Homo sapiens: one gene and its partner. The protein of the gene in region 1 interacts with the protein of each later gene in a pairwise test. Each region holds a gene or a part of one and is shown on either strand. Other genes may lie near its edges.

Region 1 (7,182 bases):
CCATCAGCAAATACTGACAAATGTCTTTTTTTTTTTTTTTTTGAGATGGAGTCTAGCTCTGTCGTCCAGGCTGGAGTGCAGTGGCATGATCTCAGCTCACTGCAACCTCTGCCTCCCAGGTTCAAGTGATTCTCCTGTCTCAGCCTCCCGAGTAGCTGGGATTATAGGCACCTACCACCATGCGCAGCTGATTTTTGTATTTTTCGTAGAGACGGGGTTTCACTGTGTTGGCCAGGCTGGTCTTGAACTCCTGATCTCCTGATCCGCCCGCCTCAGTCTCCCAAAGTTTGGGATTACAAGCGTGAGCCACAGCGCCCGACTCTGATAAATGTCTTAATTCTGTTTCTTGTTTAATAGATTTTTGTATTTTGTAGTCAAATCAATTCATTTTCCCTTTGTGATTCTGTCATTGTTTTTAAACACAGACCATGCCCTTCCAGAGATGTGGTGTCACTTTTACTTTCTTTTAGCATTTTTTATGATTTACTTTCTTTTTCTAAAAACATATTTTAAATCTCTATAGGGCAAACAATGTTCAAATTAAATATAATGCAAGTCATAAATGTGATCCATAAATGTAATTTTATTTTATTTATTATTATTATTATTTTTTGAGACCGAATCTCACTCTGTCACCCAGGCTGGAGTGCAGTGGCATGATCTCAGCTCACTGCAACCCCCGTCTCTGCCTCCTGGGTTCAAGTGATTCTCCTGTCTCAGCCTCCTGAGTAGCTGGGATTACATGCGCACAGCATCATGCCTGGCAAATTTTTGTGTTTTTAGTAGAGACGGGGTTTTACTATGTTACCCAGGCTGGTCTCAAACTGCTGGGCTCAAGCGATCCGCCCACCTCAGCCTCTCAAAGTGCTGGGATTACAGGTGTGAGCCACCATGCCCAGCCCATACGTGTAATTTTAAATCTTTCCAGTGGCTACTTTTTTTTTTTTGAGATGGAGTCTTGCTCTGTCTCCCAGGCTAGAATGTGATGGCGCAATCTCAGATCACCGGAACCTCCGCCTCCCGGGTTCAGTGATTCTCCTACCTCAGCCTCCCGAGTAGCTGGGATTACAGACGTGCACCACCATGCCCAGGTAATCTTTGTAGTTTTAGTAGAGACAGGGTTTCGCCGTGTTGGCCAGGCTGGTCTCAAACTCCTGACCTCAGGTGATCCACCCGCCTTAGCCTCCCAAAGTGCTGGGATTACAGACGTGAGCCACCACGCCCAGCCCCAGTGGCTACATTTTTTTTTTTTTTAAGTAAAAAGGATAGGTAGGAGCACAGAGGATTTTTAGGGCAGTGAAACTATTCTGCGTGATACCACAATGGTGGACACATGTCATTATACATTTGTCAAAACCCATAGAATATCCAACACCAAGAATGAGCCCTAATGTAAACTAGGAACTTTGGGTGATATTAGCGTGTCAGTGTAGGCTCATCAATTTCAGCAAATGGATATCTCTGGAACCAGAGGTTGTGTGTGTATGGGGACAGCAGATATGTGGGAACTCTGTACTTTCTGCCCAGTTTTGATGTGAACTTAAAACTGTCCTAAAAAATAACAATTTAGCTGGGCACTGTGGCTCATGCCTATAATCCCAGGACTTTGGGAGGCTGAGGCGGGAGGATCGCTTGAGCTCGGGAGTTTGAGACCAGCCTAGGCAGCATGGCAAAACCATGTTTTGTATTTTTCTTCAAAAAAATACAAAAATTAGCCGGATGTGGAGATGCACATCTGCAGTCCCTGCTACTGGGGAGGCTGAGGTGGGAGCACTGCTTGAGCTTCAGGGGTGGGGGGCGGTGGAGCTTGCAGTGAGCGGAGATTTTGCCACTGCACTCCAGCCTGGGTGACACATTGAGACCCTGTCTTAAAAAAAGAAAAAAAATTATCATTATAAATAATTCAAAATTATTAAAACATCAAAAGAAACAGGTGAAAGTAATATTAATAACATATTTTATTGTCCTATTATATTCAAAAATATCACTTAATATATAATCATTTATATAAAATTAATTAATGAGGCTAGGAGCAGTGGCACACGCTTGTAATACCAGCAATTTGGGAGGCTGAAGCAGATGGATGGCTTGAGCTCAGGAGTTTGAGACCAGCCTGGCTAACATAGCAAAACCCTGTGTCTATAAAAAAATAAAAATAAAAATAAAAATAAATTAGCCGGGTGTGGTGGGGTGAGAATGTAGTCCCAGCTACTCAGGAGGCTGAGGTGGGAGGATCACTTGAGCCCGTGAGGTCAAGGCTGCAGTGAGCCATGATTGCACCACTGCACTCCAACCTGGGTGACAGAGTGAGATGCTGTCTCAGTACATAAATAAATAAAATTAGTTAATGAAACATTTTACTTTTTCTGGTACTAAGCCATCAAAACTTGGTTTGTATTTTACAATTACAGCATGTCTCTATGCTTGTTATGACAAGCCACGTTGTCTGGGCTCAAAAGCCTCTGTGGCTCACGGCCACTGGGTTAGTCCTTTCGGGACTAGAGCTTGGTTTGATTCCATGGGAGGACAGAGGGAACAGGGTCTTGTGGCCTGTTTTACTCTCTCCTTCATCTTCACGTCCCCTCTACTCCTCTCTTGAAAATTCACACCCAGCCAACTTCTGTTTTCTTTTTTTGAGACAGAATCTGGCTCTGTCGCCCAGGCTGGAATGCAGTGGTGCCATCTTGGCTCATTGCACCCTCAACCTCCCAGGTTCAAGCAATTCTTGTGCCTCAGCCTCCTGAGTAGCTGGAACTACAGGCGTGGACGACCACACCCAGCTAATTTTTGTATTTTTAGTAGAGACAGGGTTTCACCATGTTGGCCAGGATGGTCTCAAACTCCTGACCTCAAGTGATCCGCCTGCCTTGGCCTCCCAAAGTGCCAGGTGCCAGGATTGCAAGCATGAGCCACCGCGCCTGGCTGAACTTTTTTCTTGCTTTTCCTAGTGATCTCCGCCTGGCTCTCTTGTGTCAGCCAGAGTGGCCTTTTGGCTCTCCGCCCACTCTGTCACTCTGCCCAGGGCTTCCATTGGTCCACGGCTGGCACCTTGCATGCCTCCACCTTCAGACTGTGGCTCTCACCCAGGAGCTCCGCACTTGGGACACCCTAGGATCTCCACCCCTGCAGCTCCCAGCTCTGGTGACAGCCTCAGTAATAACACAATTCTGAAATATATTCCTACCAGCCAGCACTTACTGAGCAGGCAACGCCAGACATTCTGCTGACCCAGGGTGCGTCCTCTTATCCTTCCAACCATCTTGAGGGCAGGAACCATTTTGCACATGAGGCTGTCCTATCAGTCAGTGAGCACTGACAGGTCCCAGGCTGTGTTCAAGGTCAGGGGAAGGAGCTTGGGGGTCATTAGACAAAAGCCCTGGGGGTCCTAGAGGGTTGAGCCAGGTTTATTAAAAATTCCTCCATGTTGGCCAGGTATGGTGGTTCACATCCCTAATCCCAGCACTTTGGGTGGCGGAGGTTGGAGGATTGCTTGAGGCCAGGAGGTCCAGACCAGCCTGGTCAGCATAGCAAAACCCGGTCTCTATTTTATTCAAAATAAGAAAAAGAAAAAAAAAATTTTTTTTTTTTTTGAGACGGAGTCTCACTCTGTCACCCAGGCTGGAGTGCAGTGGCGCGATCTCGGCTCACTGCAAGCTCCGCTTCCCGGGTTCACGCCATTCTCCTGCCTCAGCCTCCCGAGTAGCTGGGACTACAGGCGCCCGCCACCACGCCCAGCTAATTTTTTGTATTTTCAGTAGAGACGGGTTTTCACCATGTTAGCCAGGATGGTCTCGATCTCCTCCTGACCTCGTGATCCGCCCGCCTCGGCCTCCCAAAGTGCTGGGATTACAGGCGTGAGCCACCGCGCCTGGCCCAAAAAAAAAAAAACATTTAAAAAAAAATTTCCTCCATTTTGCTGGAAAGAGGATCTCAGTGTATTCCCTTTCCTGCCACCTGCGAACAGGCGGGAGCCCCCGCAGTAAGGAGGCCTGGAGGTGGCTGCCTCCAGCTGCCCCAGGCCACTCTCCCGGCAGGTCACCTCCCTGTCCCAAGTAGGGTGCGCTTGGTGACCGCAGCAAAAAATCCTGGAGAGGAGGAGAGAACTGGGCGGGGCGGGGCAGGCCCAGTGCCTCTCCCGTCGGGGCGGGACCAACATCTGGCCCAGGAGGCACAACCAGGCGGCAGCGGATACAAGGCCAGGCGGCGGCGGGCGGGCGGACCTGCGCCCTGAGCCTTTCTGCGCCCGCGGGCACCATGAGCAGCCGAGTCGGGGACCTGAGCCCCCAGCAGCAGGAAGCGCTGGCCAGGGTGAGGAGCATCGCGGGCTGGGAGGCTTGAGGAGGGGCCCTGAGCAGCCTGGCACTGCCCAACCCGGCTGGAGCCCCCATGGTACAGACTGGAACACCGAGCCTGGAGAGAGCGCCTCTGTTCTGCCCTCTGGTCCAGCGTGCGGTTGTTGAGGCGGCTACGTGCAGCACGCGGGACAGGGGCCCATCTCTGCGTGACCAGGAGCCGAATCCAGTCTTCTGACCTTGCGTGCTCTCCACCACCCGGCCCTGGTCCTTGTTCCCCGGTTGTGGGGGAGGGAGTGGCGCTGCCATCCGGCTGCGGGGGCAGCCTTGGGTAGACAGACTGCTTTTCATGTCCAGGTTGCAACATTTGTTTGTTTGGCTTCTCTTTGTGATTTGTTCTTAGGGCCCAAGCTTCTCTGTAATCTTTTTTTTTTTTTTTTTTGAGATGGAGTCTTGCTCTGTCGTCCAGGCTGGAGTGTAATGGCGCAATCTCGGTTCACTGCAACCTCCACCTCCTGAGTTCAAGCGATTCTCCTGCCTCAGCCTCCCAAGTAGCTGGGGCTACAGGTGCCCGCCACCACACCCGACTAATTTTTGTATTTTTAGTAGAGACGGGGTTTCACCATATTGGCCAGGCAGGTCTCTTGGACAGGCTGGTCTCGAACTCCTGACCTTGTGATCCATCCGCCTTGGCCTCCCAAAGTGCTGGGATTACAGGTGTGAGCCACTGCGCCCGGCCTCATATTTCTAATCCCAAATTTGGATTCACAGATTCACCTTCAAACCCAGCCTTTGCCTTCAGCTCTGTTGGTCCCCAGGGAAGTGAGATCTCCTCTCTCTCAGACGCAACAGATGCCCTGATAAGGCATTCCTGGCTTCTCTTTCAGCCCCTGTCTGTTGACCTCTGCCTCTGTTTTTTTTCCACAAAGCCTCCATTGTCCGGGGCATCAGGCAGTCCACGCTGGCTGAGTGCTCACATATATCTGACACCTGCTCGGAGCCAAGCCTGCTAAGTGTTTTACGTGCACAGACTCCTTTGATTGGTACAAGTTTATTTTTATCCCCATTTCAGAGATAAGGAAACTGAGGCTTAGAGAGGTTTGGTAACTTGCCTCTAAATCTAAACCCTCAAGATGCAGTATCAGGGACAACATTCCTAAAACCGCCTAGCTGGCCTGCATCAGACTCTCCCAGGGATCCTTGTAGAAATAAGGCTGTCAGTCGGGCATGGTGGCTCACGCCTGTGATCCCAGCACTTTGGGATACTAAGGCGGGTGGATTGTTTGAGCCAAGGAGTTTGAGACCAGCCTGGGCAACATAGCAAGATCCCATCTCTACAAAAAGTACAAAAATTAGCTGGGCATCTTGTGTGCCTGTGGTCCCAGCTACTTGGGAGTCTGAGCTGGGAGGATCTATTGAACCCGGGAGGCACGGGTTGCAGTGAGCCAAGATCACGCAACTACGCTCCAGCTTGGGCGATAGAGTGAGATCCTGTTTCAATAATAATAATAATAATAATAATAATATAAAAATAATAATAAAATAAAAATTAAAAATAAGGATGCCAGGGCCCCACCTTAGACATGTAGAATGGGAGTCCAGTGTGTAGGGCACTCCCAAATTTTGGGAAGGACCCAACTCTTTTTCCTATGTTGGGCTGGAGGGTGCCCTATTTTCAGATGGCAAAGTCGTTCAGGGCAGCACCCTGCATGGTCTTCTGGTGGAGTTGACTGGTGGATGATGTGGGAAGGGTTAGGGGCGGGGTTGGTGGCCCCCGAGGTCATGAGAGCTCCGCCGACCATCAGATCCTCCTCCGCTCAGTTCCGGGAGAACCTCCAGGACCTGCTGCCCATACTGCCCAATGCTGATGACTACTTCCTCCTGCGCTGGCTGCGAGGTGAGGCTTGCAGGGGTCAGGGGACGCAGAAAGGGAGGGAAGGAAGGAGGGTCTCAGGAGAGGAGTGGGAGACTTTGAGGGAATGGAGCTGTAGGGTAGTAAAGAACACAGGCTTGCCGGGCCCGGTGGCTCACACCTGTAATCCCAGCACTTTGGGAGGCCGAGGCAGGCAGATCACCTGAGGTCGGGAGTTCGAGACCAGCCTGACCAACATGGGGAAACCCTGTCTCTACTAAAAATACAAAATTAGCTGGCTTGGTGGCACATGCCTGTAATCTCAGCTACTCAGGAGGCTGAGGCAGGAGAATCGCTTGAACCCGGGAGGCAGAGGTTGCGGTAAGCCGAGATCCCGCCATTGCACTCCAGCCTGGGCATCAAGAGTGAAGCTCCGTCTCAAAAAAAAAAAAACAAAAAAACAAAAAACACAGGGTCTGGAATCAGCCTGCTCTGACTAGAATCTGAGCTCCCCTGTGTATGAGCACAGCACAAAACCCCACTGAGCCTCAGTTTCTTCATCTGTCAAGCAAGGATGAGGCAACAGGTGGGCACAGAGTCCAGGTGAGGTTACAGTTAACAGCCAGGACATCCTCAGGCCTCTGGCCTGGCCAGCCCTTGGGGCAGATGTTGCAGAGCACTGTTTTCAGTACTTGCCTTTGGGTGTACCTCCAGTTCCCCGAGGACAGGGCTCTGTTGTCCCCTAAAGGAACCGAGGTGCCCTAGTGCACTGAGCAGGTGCCCAGCAAACACTTAAGGAAGTGGATTTAGCGAATGCTAGAGAAGCAGTTTCTTCTAGGAATTACAGCAGCAGTCTAAAAAAATAATAACAAGCCAGATGCGATGGCTCACACTTATAGTCCCAGTGCTTTGGGAGGCTGAGGCAGGCAGATTTCTTGAGCTCAGGAGTTCAAGACCAGCCTGGGCAACATGGCGAAACCTCATCTCTACAAAAAATACAAAAATTAGCCGGGTGAGCTGCCGAGCACCTGTAATCCC
Region 2 (7,208 bases), on another chromosome or scaffold:
TACCCCCAGTGAAGCTGATTGTACCAACATAAGCTGGTGTGCTCACTTGGAGTTCAGCTGCTGGATATGTCAACGTCCTTGAGAGTTCAAAAATGTAAACATCAGTCCAAGAACCAAAGATGCCCTGACCTTTGCATTAAGTTGGCCATACCCTTCCAGAGGAGACCATGGTAGAAAGCAGAGAGAGCAGGGTGAGACTGGGCAGAGATGGGAATGAGTAATGCTGACTGCATCCTGCCCCTCCTTCTTTGAGAATTCAAGTTTTAAAATCTGTTCTCTAATTCCACAATAAACAATCATCATGCACCTACTATGTACCAGGCTCTGGGCCGGGCAGTGGGATTCAAGAATGAATACAACATGGCTCCTGGCCTCAAGGAACTCAAAGTCCTGAAAAAGCCACACTGTAATGACAAGCCGCAATACCGTGTGACAAGTTTCTCCCTCTCTCTCTCTCTCTCTCTCTCTCTCTCTCACACACACACACACACACACACACACACACACAGCCAGCTCTGCCCAGTGGCACTGAGGAAGGTTTCATGGATGGAGAAACACATCAACTGAGTCCTAAGGATGAGGAATGATTAGTATGTTCCAGAATGAAGGAACAGCAAGTACAAAGCAGAAGCTTTTTAAAAAATGTGTTTTGATGTAGGCAGAGGCAAAAGTCCCCCAGTGGGCTGTTAGAACTTTCTTGAAGACTCAGAGAGTCTTGAAGAGTTCCTTACCAGCTTAACTACTGGCTTCCCACTCCCTGCTGAATAAACTCTTGGTTCAGCAGGCCTGAGGCCTTGGCTATATACCCATACCCCAGTTCATGTAACAGCAGGACCTGTGGGCTCAGTTTCAGACCCAAGGACTAGGGCTAGTAGAAGAAAATATAGTTCAATTTATGTGAAAGGGCCAGCTGAAATATCTGTCATTCTGGCAGTGTTCCCTGGTCACCCTAGCCAGAAGCCATCTTGCCCTCCTCTGGTCTCCTATTGGCAACTCTTTGCAGTATTAATTAAAAGCACAATAGTTAAATGTGGACTCTGGGGCCAGAATGCCTGGCTTTGAATTCCGGAATGCCTGGCCTCCACCTCCATATCTGTAAAACAGAGATAAAAATGATCCCCACCTAATGAGTGAAGAACTGCTAAACCCTTAATACACTGCTTGGCACATAGTAAATGCTCTGTAAGTGTTATTAATTACTATTATTGAAAATAATGCAACCATTTCTTGAGCATTTATTGGTACTAAGGGCAATGCTAGGCCGTTTACATGCCTTATCATTGCTCGGCACAGGGTGCTGAGTGTCTGAGCACAGAGGATGTTACAATATTAGGTGACTTTAGGGAGCACATTGTTGCTTTCTGAGTAGAAGAAACTTTCTCTCCTGCTGAAGCCACCTAACTCACAGTAAGTTGTGTTTGATCCTGGATCAACATAAATGCCTTGAAGAATACACACTGTCTCCAAGATGCCAGGGACTCTCACATCAACAGGCTGTTGACAGTGGATCCCACAGCATTTCACACATAGGCACCCATGTCCTCAACCCCGGATACCCAGCAGATTCTGAAATCCTGATTGTTTTTCCTGTGCCCAGCAACTGACTTTCTCCATGATCTTGGGAAGGTGTACAATCCCAGCTCTAGCTACCTAACTCATCTTCACATCCAGAAACCCCGCTTCCTCCAGTCAGATCTGATCTATGTAGCAAGCTCAGCAGCTAGAGGGACACACTTCCTTCCTACTTTAGACCCTATAAAGCGAACACAAACAATGCAGCCCTATGACAGAAGTCATTGGCCTTGGACTAAGGTCTTCAGCAGGCTCTCTTTCAGGTTTTCTTCCCATCTCTTCCAGTAACTGACTCTGCAGAGCTGCCCCCATCCACCGGGTAGCCATTACAAAGAGGTTCACAGCCTATAAGGGGCTTGGTGGCTGCAGAAATACGCAAACTGTCTTTAGTTTGACTTAGCCATCTATGACTGGTTTGGCTTCAGTTTGCAATGACCCAAGTTTGCATTAATTACTTTCAATAGCAAAACCACGGTTACTTTTGCACCAACCTAATATTAACCTGACCACAGCACCAAAGTGTTCATCTTTAACCCTGATGGGCTTGAGCACAGACTGCAAAGTCCTGGGCTCATCCTGACTTCCAGAATTACCTCAGGAAAAATAGATGGCTGGATTAGGACAGGACCACAGTGATCAGGAGGACTTAGCATGTTTTTAATCCCCTCCATTAAGAAGAATTTTGGCATTCTATTCTACTGTGAAACTACATTTGCTTTCTAAGAGACTAGGTCATGACAGCTCAAGAATGACCCGACATTTCTCTTCATCCAAAATAAGCAGGCATATTGCTCAATGGGTACCCTATGACCACCTGAATAAAACCAATATCTTTTCATAACCTCATCCTGAAACATTCTCCAAGCCTGCTGGTGGGTCCAAAGCTGGTCTGTCTTATCCATGGACCCATTCTCTGGAATTCAAGAGGTGCTGCAAAAATGCTGCCTCAAATAGCTCTGCCTGTGGCCCTATATCCCCTATTTGAGATTAGTTCACTTAGGTGCAAACATTAGAGGCTGATATTAGAGTGTGTTACCTTGTAGAGATGATGTTCTTTAACTCAGTGCAATCATCAGATTTAAAAGGTCTCCAAGAAGGTCATTATTTCAAACTTGAGAATCTCTCATGAGAAGCTCTACTGTTCTTTCTATCTACTGCCAGCATCTTTTAAGTATTAACTCACTTACTTCTCATTACAGTGTGGGAGGTATTATGAGGAAACTGAGGCACAGAGAATTTAAGTAACATGTGGATGTTAGTGAGTGAGTGGCTGCAGTTTGGAGCTTGAGCACCATGTTCCAGTGTGTGCTCATCACCAGGCTTCCTTCTGGAAGGGAGAGACAGAGTCGGAGTCTGGAAAACAGCAAGGGAGGGTCTGGATCAGGGGACTGTGAGCAGGCCAGGTGTTGTGAGAGCTGACCGAGGACATGGCCTAGAGGCTGATTATGGAGATTGTGAAAATTGCTATGGAAAAGAAATTTCCAGAACCCAGATTTTGGCTACTTTTGAAAGCATTTTTGAGGTAATACTGTCCTCTAGTGGCTAGATAGCAGGTAGGGATTACCCTCCAAATAAATAGCCAATGAGCCTTGAGTGGAGATGGTATGACAAGTCAGTGGTAAATTCATCATTTTGCTCTCTAACTACAGGTTCTAAAGGAAAGGCAAACCCCACTGCTATGGTCATCGGTACAGCTCAGGATTTCGGCCTCCTCTGCTCCGTGTGTTGGCTACAGGCTAGGTTCAAATCCCAATTCTGCTCTTTACTGCTGAAAGGCTTTGGGCATGTTCGTTAATCTCATTTTCTCTTCTGAAAAAGAGACAATCTTGAAAAGATTGACCTTCCGTGAAGATCAAATGAAGTAATGCGTGTAGTGTGTCTGGCACGTCGTAAGCGCATCACACACGTGAGCTGTGGCAATACTAAGGAGCAGTGGCAAGAGCTGGGGGAGGAGTGGAGACGAACAGACCTGGACAAATTAGTGACCTTTCTGGGACCCCTACAGAACTCTTCTGGAGAAATTAATTCTATTTTTCCATGTACTTTTAAGTTTGCTTTTCCTAGCATTTCTTCTACATTCCTGAATAATTTTCCACTCAAAAATTTCACTGGTTCTCCCTGACTCCCATATTAATCTAGACATAATTACTTCCCCAGAACAGTTCTGTGGGCAGGGAGGGCTCTACACTATGCACCCTCCAAAATCCCCAAAGCTCGGACCGTCCTGGCCTGGGTCCCCACTGCTGTCCTGCCCATGGGCTCCCAGGCTGTGCTTGCTCTTCTCCCACCCCAACCCCATCACCACAAAAAGCCCCTCCTCCAACCCGGGGACTTTTGTAATTTCCTACCTGAAATCATCCACTCCCTACCTCTAACAATCTGTGATGAGCAGAGGACAACATCAAGTTTGAATTTAGAGGTAGGGAATGGGTGATTTCAGGTAGGAAATTACAACTTCACTTTGAAGTTTAATTTTGTAATAAACTTCACTTAATTTTGAAGTAAATTTGCAAAGTCAGCAAAATTCTTTCAAAGTCAACCTTGCTCTGGCCTAGTTGCTTATTTACTGCTAAGCTGGATGTTTTCATTAAAAGATTAACTTTGAGACTTCAGCCTCTTCTTTAGCCTGAACTGTGGGTAGTGATGTGGTGTGTTTCCTAACACCTCCGGCAGTGAGCCAGGCTTTGAGTGGCTGCGTCTAAACACTTCTTTCCCTGAGGACTGGAAGACATTAGAATAAGGTTTGTCATTGAGTGTGTTCTGTGTGCTTGGAACTGAGAAGGGTGATGAAGTGCCAGATAGGATGGGAATGGAAGATATCGTGGAAGCCAACTATGAGTTTGCAAGGCAAGGACCTTGGCAAAGATGGTCCTAGGGAGACAGGTGTTAGGGAACTCAGAGGGCATGGGCAAAGGAAGATTTGGTTTCAAAAAGGATACAGACAGAGAAGGTTAAGTCTAGGAAGTTGAGTCTTAGAATTGTATGGTGGAATATTCGTGGGTGTCCATAGGAGGAAAAATGGGTTAAAATGTTTTCACTTGACAGCGTTCTGAAAACCTAAAAGGTATTGCTATTGCCTTCAGGGATATATTTAGTATTCTGACCACTGCTTCCCGGCCACAAGCAAAAGAAAACAGTGACATGGCTATGCTCCTAAAAAAGTAAAGAAGTTAATGTGTCTCAAACAATGTAGTTCCTTTGAGCAATAAGCTTATTTGGAACAAATGGGTTACAAAGTCCCACTAATGAAGAGCCTCTGATTGTGTTAAGTTGAATCTACAGATCAACCTGCGGAGAACTGCCAAGAACGCTAATGAAGACAGGGAGGTACTGGTATAAAGATAGATAACAGATCAATGGAACAGAATAAAGCGTCCATTAGCAGGAAGCAAAATCCGCAAACTTTTATTCTTAACTACTACTATATTCTGCATTTTACAAGATCCTTCAATTCTCACAAGATCCCTATGAGATAGACAGTAATAACCTAATTTAAAGATAGATGAGAATTGGAGCTTGTCTAGAATAGATTGAGTGGAACATCACTTGTGGTATATCATTTGAGAGGTAATGGGAATATTGCCAAATTCCCAGGTAACTCTCCCCTCAAAGGGACTCCTGTTGTACTCTAAATCGTATCAGCTATCAAATGATGAGCTATGAAAGTCTGTCTTCTTCGACTGTAAGCTTCTTGAGAGCAGAAACTGATGTGATAAAGGTCCCCCCCCATATCTCTAGTGTTTAGCATAATACTTTGATATATTATGTTAAATCAGGCTATGTTATAGTAAAGAATAAACCTTAACAACTTAGTGAGATAACACATAAATATTTATTTCTTCCTTACACAATATCAGCTGATCTCCAGGGCTACCCTTTTCCAAATGGCGTTTTGGGAATCCAAGTGGCCTTTCTCTTACAGCTTTGCCTTCTTGAGGATGGAGGATCGCTGTAGAGGAGGAAACAAAGCTGGAGGGTCACATACCAGCTCTTCAATCCTTGGCCTAGAATTCACACCTGCTATTCCCACTCCCAGGCCATTGGCCAGAAGAACTAGTCACAGAGCCATGCCTGTATTTAAGCAACAGCGAAATGTTAAGCATGTGGGGAGCAGTATATGCCTCCGCCACCCTGGCTGAGAGTGTGTGTCAATAAACCTTCTTGGATAAACTAATGAGTAAATCTGACAGAGGGTTTAAATTATACTATGACAGAAATACTCAAATCCTGAAGCAGCTTTCCACTTCCAGAGCCTCAGATGAAATCACACATGTCATCAACAGGAGGAATAATGAACATGGAGCTGCCTTTATTAACAATCTAGTCTATACAAGGCACTGTTCTAGAAATTTCAAAGGGGCCATACTGCTTAGTCCTCATGGCAGCCCTATGGGATGGATGTTAATATTCTCCTTTAACAAATAAATTTTGCACAGAACCGTGGTGAGCCAGTAGTAGAGCTGAGATTTCAGCCTATGTTTGCCAAGTGCCAAAGCTTATAATATAGTCTGTCTTCTCTACTCCACTGACTCCCTCAGTCATTAGTTCCTTGGGCACAGTTGATCGGTGGAAAGCAATGGCCTTCAGAAACACAGTCTGGGTAGTTGCCGTAGACAGAGAAGCCAGGAGGAAGGCAAAGAGAGAAAAAACTGCACTCCATAGCTGGGCTCTTCCATCCCCAACTGCTCTGCCTTTTCTCCTCTCTCTCCTGCTACAACCCAGTGATTGCCACTGTGAGATATAGGTACACCTGCAAGACCTGAAGTCACTAGTGGACAGAGTAGACGTCAGAGCCTGTTTTGGAGCTTTGTGTGAATTCTGATGTCTGTTTTGCACATTCTATCCTTGTTGAGCAGATGAAGAGGCAGGTGCAGTGATCTCACAGTGTCACATAGAACTCCTTTCCCAATGGCCTGGATTTTGTGGGAATTGACCAAGCTCATTTTATGCAACTCTCTGACCATTCAGAACAGAGACTTAAATGTCTCCCCCATACCAGTAACACTCCATACTGGCTCAAAGACATTGGAAACAAGTCAGAAGGATTCCAGGTCAGGCTTTGCCATTTCTGTTGCATTAGCTTGGATACTCACGTGAATTATCCGAGCTTTAATGTTTTTATCTATAACATGGGGCTCATACATACACTCTCTGATTGCCCACTGGATTGTTGTAAGCACCAAATGGAATAACGTATAGAAGAGTGCTCTGTAGACTGTTAAGACAGATTTAAACATAAGAAGTTATTTTTTAGTGATTGGCTGAATAATTAAGATTTTTTTTAACTTTCTGATTGAGTTATGATTTTTTGAGGGAAGAAAGCAAAGTTGCATATGTCCATGACATTTTAATCCTCTAAGGTCCGTGCCAACTCTGTCATTCCATAAACCACACTTGGCTGTGCCCATTTTCTTCTTTCTATAGTGCTTAAGAGCCAGGCCACTGGAATCGTGACACATTACTAGATATGTAATATTGAACAAAGTATTTTAACCTCTTGAACTTCAGGTTTCTCACCCGTGAAATGGGGATGATAATATTTGTGTTGAACATTTCCACAAGGATTAAAACAGTCATGCATGTAAAGCAATTTACACAGTGCATGGTACATCATGGAGTACTTGAAAAATGGTTGC

Evidence for each region. Proteins that work in one complex are often made in the same cells at the same time.
Region 2: the proteins of SEC14L4 (region 1) and HAO2 interact in binary tests that used the Homo sapiens proteins (3 or more experiments, as listed by UniProt).

The regions. Positions count from the first base shown.
Region 1 is NC_000022.11:30,502,684-30,509,865, reverse strand, and holds the start of SEC14L4 (SEC14-like protein 4), read left to right. Parts: upstream 1-4,170; 5' UTR 4,171-4,254; coding exon 4,255-4,308; intron 4,309-6,113; coding exon 6,114-6,189; intron 6,190-7,182. UniProt on the Homo sapiens protein: Probable hydrophobic ligand-binding protein; may play a role in the transport of hydrophobic ligands like tocopherol, squalene and phospholipids.
Region 2 is NC_000001.11:119,364,590-119,371,797, forward strand, and holds the start of HAO2 (2-Hydroxyacid oxidase 2), read left to right. Parts: upstream 1-4,195; 5' UTR 4,196-4,313; intron 4,314-4,356; exon of another isoform or gene 4,357-4,419; intron 4,420-5,494; exon of another isoform or gene 5,495-5,742; intron 5,743-7,208. UniProt on the Homo sapiens protein: Oxidase that catalyzes the oxidation of medium and long chain hydroxyacids such as 2-hydroxyhexadecanoate and 2-hydroxyoctanoate, to the correspondong 2-oxoacids.